Regions from separate parts of the Homo sapiens genome. Here region 1 is linked to region 2. Evidence: fine-mapped expression QTL. Tissue or cell type: cerebellum. Region 2 holds a variant in brackets; the other region holds the start of a gene. All regions are shown on one strand. Distances are from middle to middle.

Region 1 (2,755 bases), 20 kb after region 2:
AGGTGCTCCGTGTCCTGTAGCGGCTCCCACACCTGGCGCAGGACATATGGGGCCAACACACCCAGGACGGAGGCGTCAGCAAAACTATCGAAGCGCAGGTAGCCCACATTGCCTGGCAGCACCGACACCTGGAACACAGAGTCCACCAGTGCTTGCCGGATAGCCTCGTCCTCAGGCAACTCTGGGGCCACCCCTGGTGAGTCTTCGGCTGCAGCGTCGGGCGCGGGCCAAGAAGGAGTTTCTGTGGGCCCGATGGCTCGCACCAGGAGCCTGGGATCCTCAGACGCAGCCTGCAGGCCGGCATTGAGCTTGGTGACCAGATCTTCCTCGGAGACCACCGTGGAGAAGTCCATGCTGGCCAAGTGCTGCAGCAGGGTGGGCACACGGTCCACCAGCGTGTAGTAGTCCTTCAGGACCTCCTGGAGGCAGTGGACTACCCCTGGAAGGGCGCTGCGCAGAGTGAGGATGGCCAGGGCTTTCTCCAGGGCCTGCTCGGCCGGAGTCCCCACACAGGGCAGCACCCCGCTGCCCTCCCACGTCTGGCTGCCTCCACCAAGGGGCCCCAGGGACCTGGACACGGGCACCGTGAAGAAGAAGTCAGACTCGCCTATCCTCAGCTTCCGGAGGTCCAGGGCCCCTCCCCCAGTCCGCTCGCCCACCACGATGGCCCTGCGCATCTGCTTAAGGATGTGCGCGATGTCCTCGGCCACGCCCCTGGTCTGGCTGCTGGTGAGGACCACCACATCCTTGTCGGCACCGTACCTTTCTCCCAGGACCTGGGGCAAGGTCCAGATCTCCGTGGTGGTGTTGGAGGGGCGGTTGTAGATAGTGTCCACGTGCAGGATGGTGTTCCCTGGGTGCAGGTAGGAGATGATGTAGGGAATGCCAGAGACCTGGCCTCCTGTGCAGTGCCGGAGATCCAGCACTAAGGCGGAGGTGCCCATGAGATTCCCCCACACGTGGGCCACCAGGAACTCCCCCATCATGCTCAGCACCTCCTGGCCCGGGACGCTGTCCACCCGCAGGTAGCCCACATTACCCTCCAGAACCTCATGGCGGAGGCCCCTTTGCAGCCAGGCAAGCAGTTCCTCTTCTGAGAGGCTGGTGAGTGCTGGGACTTGTGGGGGAGGCTCGGGGGTGCTGGGCTCATAGGAGATGACCAGGCGAGGATCGTTCAGGGAGCTCTGCACCCCGGCTGTCAGCACACTGGCCAGCGTCTGCGGGTCTGAGATGCTCAGAATCTCATGGCTCTTGATGGCCTGCTGGATGGCTTCCTGCATGCCCAGCAGGTTCTCCGGGAAGCAGTAGTTATCCAAGAGGACCTTGGCCATGTCCAGCACCAGGCTTGGCTGGAACAGGTGTGTGGGGCCAGCCAGGCCACAGAGCAGCACGGACATGAGCAGAACCCATTCTCTCATCATGGGGACCCAGGGGGAGGCCTGGCTCCTGCACAAAAGCTCCCTGGACTGTGTGCAAGGCCGTGGCCCTGCTCTGTGCAGCTGCCTTCCGCCCTTGTCCTTCTCAGCTGGTGGACAGAAGGTCTGGGGCTAAACTCCTGAGTTGGGGCAAGGCTTCCAGCTCCAGTAAGCCTTTAATCCTGTCTAATTCAAGCACATCAACCCTGGGTATCGGGGAGGAGTGGCCAGGGTGGTTTGACCCAGAAGGTACATTGCATCTTATCTTGCTGTGTTGTGTCTGCATATCATAACATTAATCACTGCCATTATTTTAGTTCCTGCTACATGCCAGACACTGTGCTCCATCCTTTACAAGCTGACAGTTTCCACCAGAGCCTTGCAAAGTCCAGTTATTAACTTGCAAGTCCTCCTTGGAGAACTGTTCTGCCACTGTCTCTCCCGTGGCCTCAGGGAAATGTCTTAATTACTTATTGTGTAGATTAAATGAGAAAATATGTGTAAAGCACTTCTTCCCAGTACCCAGTAAGTAGGAAGCACTCATTACTGGTAAGTTATCTGTATTAGATATTACCTCTGTTTCATAGCTAAAAAACAAAAAAACAAAAAAACAAAACAAAACAAAGCAAAGCAAAACAAAACAGGCCAGAGAGTTCTGTAACTAATAGAAGCCCATCGTTTTAGGTGTGGACAGATAGGGGGTGCAGCAAGAAGAAGTCCTTGGGGCTACAATTGGCCCATACAGTGCAGAGGCTGAGTCTGAGGCTGGCATCAGCCTCAGAGCTTGAGATTTATTTCTATGTCCCTTTAATGCCTCCAGGGAACAGAACGGGTCCCCCTACAGCTTTCTAATGCTGGGAATGATGTGTCTGGACCACCATGTAGGGTGTGGAGTGTAGAGGCGCCCACCTTCCAGACATCACAGGACTAGTGTTCCCATTCAAATGAGGTTAGCTCTGAGAGTTAATGGCTAGAGGGGACTCCTGCTTCTTGAAGGCTCAGCCCACAGCCTGCAGTTCGCAGGGAGAATCAAGCAGGAAGTCTTGGGTCTCCGTGGTCCCAGGCTTCACATGGAATCCAGATCATTCCTCCTGACTGCATAAAGCACAAGAAACAGGGAAAGGTAGACTGCTGAACTCTTCAGATCCCAGCTCCTGCCACTTCTTATAGAAATAATGTGGGTGCTGCTTGCAACTGACTGGCTGTAGAAATCCAAGAAGTCCTGCTATGGGGTCGGAACCTGGAAGCCCTGCTTTGCCGCTGAATGCCTCTGGAGATGGGCACTTTCCTCACTTAACAGACAGACAACTACGGCCCAGAGAGTGGTCGCAAGGCCAGGG
Region 2 (2,755 bases):
TAGTTTGATTTTACATCAGAGTTGGAAAGCAAAGCATACCCTTCTGCTACAGCTAGTGGTTTCCCCACCTGCGCCTGAGCTATGGACTGGGCAGGGGCCAAGTGCCCAGCAAGGAGCACAGGGAAGGAGCAGGAGGTGGAGAAGCTCAGAGGCAGGCTGCAGTAGGCTCCTCGCCCTTCTCACCATGCGGATGTCTCCTCCCTTGGCCCTATGGGAATATGGAGGGCTCACATTCTCCTCTCTGTGCAGGAGCAGGTCTCCACACTCTTTGGGAGGAGGAAGTTGACTTCTTTCTAACAGTTGCTGTCCTGTCATTCATTCATTCATTCATTCATTCAGCAAAGGCTTCCTGAGCTCCTGTCCTGTTGCAGGCTTGATTAAGTACTACAGATGTGAAGGTGAATTGACATATTTGGGTTCTTAGAGTTTGCCTTCTAGCAGACCACAAACAAGTAAATATAATGTTGCACGTGGTGCATGCAGGCCTTTGGTGCCCAGGACAGTGAGGGCATGGAGGAGGGAGTGTTGTCTGTGTCTGAGAGCACTGGGCAAGCCTCAAGGGGAGACTGTGCCTGAGGTGCATTTTGGAATGAGTTCACAGGTACGATGGGAATGAAGCTGCCCACATGTACTTGGGAGTTGGGGGAAGAGTGGGGACACTTGACTCTCACAAGAAGCATGGCTCTGAGAAAATCAGAGACCGCGCAGAAGCTGACAGGGCATGTGATGTGGACAAAGGGGCCACCAGGCTGGGAGGCAGGTCTGGTAGACCGAGGAGCAATGGGTTGAAATTAGGGTCGGGACAGAGAGGGCTGCATGAGGAGCAAAGACCATGAAGTCCATGGTCCTCCAACACTGCGACCCTCATGCTGCGGCCTCCCTGTGCCCTCAGCACTCAGCCAGGGCCAGAGGTAGCTCGAGCATGGAGCAGGGGCTGAGGGTGCATGGCTTCCTCATGATGGAGTCTACTTGTTGACAGATGACCCAGAAACTTCTGAAGGGCCCCCAAGGCCCTAATGCAGCCCCCAGAGCAGGCTCTTTCCCTTCCCCTGCAGACTCTCCATTTCATGCCTGGTTAATCCCCAGGAACCACTTTTGACAGGGGAATCCTACGTTTCTCTCTACTGAGCTGTAGAGGCTGCTGCCCATGGGCATTTTCAGCAGAGACCTCAGTCCCTACTCTGCCTCAGGGAGGTGGGCCCTGGAGGATGGTGCCATCCATGCTCCTTGTCTCCTGAGAGGTGGTGCAGTCAGCACACCCATCCCACAGACAGCGGAGGAGGCCTGAGCATCAGGGTCCTGTCTGATGCCAGCTCATGATGCACTGTGCCTGAGTGATGAATGCCCATCTCACTGCCTGTCGCTTCCTCTCTCTGCAGGGCCCTGTGGCCGAGTGTGTCCAGCCCAGTGTCATGGGGAGCTTCCATATCTCATGGCTCCTTGCTGGGCCAAGCCCTCCAGAACCCCAAACCCCCAAAGACTGATGAATGCCAGAGTGGCCACCTTGCTTATCTGTGGCCCCGGCCCTGGTGATCACCATGGCAGCTGG[G/A]AAGGGAGCCCCGTTGAGCCCATCGGCTGAAAACAGATGGCGACTTAGCGAACCTGAGCTGGGCCGGGGCTGCAAGCCAGTGCTGCTCGAGAAGACGAACCGCCTGGGCCCTGAGGCTGCTGTGGGCAGGGCGGGCCGGGATGTGGGCAGTGCGGAGCTGGCACTGTTGGTAGCCCCAGGCAAGCCCCGACCTGGCAAGCCGCTGCCCCCGAAGACACGTGGAGAGCAGAGGCAGAGCGCCTTCACGGAGCTGCCGAGGATGAAGGACCGGCAGGTGGATGCTCAGGCCCAGGAGAGGGAGCACGATGACCCCACAGGCCAACCTGGTGCCCCACAGCTGACCCAGAACATCCCCAGAGGCCCAGCTGGCAGCAAAGTCTTCTCTGTGTGGCCCAGCGGAGCACGAAGTGAGCAAAGAAGCGCCTTTAGCAAACCAACCAAGCGACCAGCAGAGAGGCCTGAGCTAACCTCAGTCTTCCCTGCAGGGGAATCTGCAGATGCCCTGGGGGAGCTGTCTGGACTCCTCAACACTACAGACCTCGCTTGTTGGGGTCGACTTTCAACTCCCAAGCTTTTGGTTGGTGATTTGTGGAACTTGCAAGCATTGCCACAGAATGCTCCACTCTGTAGCACTTTTCTGGGTGCCCCTACACTGTGGCTGGAGCATACCCAGGCCCAGGTGCCCCCACCCTCATCATCCTCCACCACTTCGTGGGCCCTCCTGCCACCCACCCTCACCTCCCTGGGCTTGTCCACCCAGAACTGGTGTGCAAAGTGCAACCTGTCCTTTCGCCTAACGTCCGACCTGGTCTTTCACATGCGATCCCACCACAAAAAGGAGCATGCGGGGCCTGACCCACATTCTCAGAAGCGGAGAGAAGAGGCCCTTGCCTGCCCTGTGTGCCAGGAGCACTTCCGGGAGCGCCACCACCTCTCCCGGCACATGACTTCTCACAGCTAGCAGGTGACCGCAGAATGACCTGCTGGGTGCAGCAGCCAGCCTTTGGCAGAGGGGGGCTCCCTGGGCCTGCGTTGAGGGGGCTGTCATGGTCCTTTGCAGAGCTGCTGCTTTTGGCATTCATAGATAAACAGCTCAGGCATAATTTGAAAAAGCCACACCTGCATGATGTGTTTTGAAGGAAATGAAGTCCTGAAATAAAGTGATGGGCTTTGCAAATCCAGGGTAGAGGCCCTAACAGGCACAGA

Direction of the effects. Alleles are on the strand shown, and positions count from the first base shown. SD is a standard deviation of normalised expression in the study named.
As copies of A replace G in region 2, the expression in cerebellum of the gene that starts at base 1,543 in region 1 goes down (moderate effect, 0.60 SD a copy in GTEx).

What was found. PIP is the estimated chance that this variant, and not a neighbour inherited with it, causes the effect.
Region 1: RBP3 starts here. The variant in region 2 is fine-mapped to the expression of RBP3 in cerebellum (GTEx, PIP above 0.99). The same link has a PIP of 0.9 or more in cerebellar hemisphere.

The regions. Positions count from the first base shown.
Region 1 is chr10:47,347,151-47,349,905 of GRCh38, reverse strand. It overlaps RBP3 (retinol binding protein 3), which reads right to left and starts at 1,543. Exons shown (of 4, transcript NM_002900.3): 1 at 1-1,543. The coding sequence starts at 1,421.
Region 2 is chr10:47,367,562-47,370,316 of GRCh38, reverse strand. It overlaps ZNF488 (zinc finger protein 488), which reads left to right. Exons shown (of 2, transcript NM_153034.4): 2 at 1,380-2,755. The coding sequence starts at 1,488. The coding sequence ends at 2,510. Among named protein-coding and RNA genes, the nearest start is that of ZNF488, 15 kb to the left of the region's middle. The variant G/A (reference allele first, on the strand shown) is at 1,550.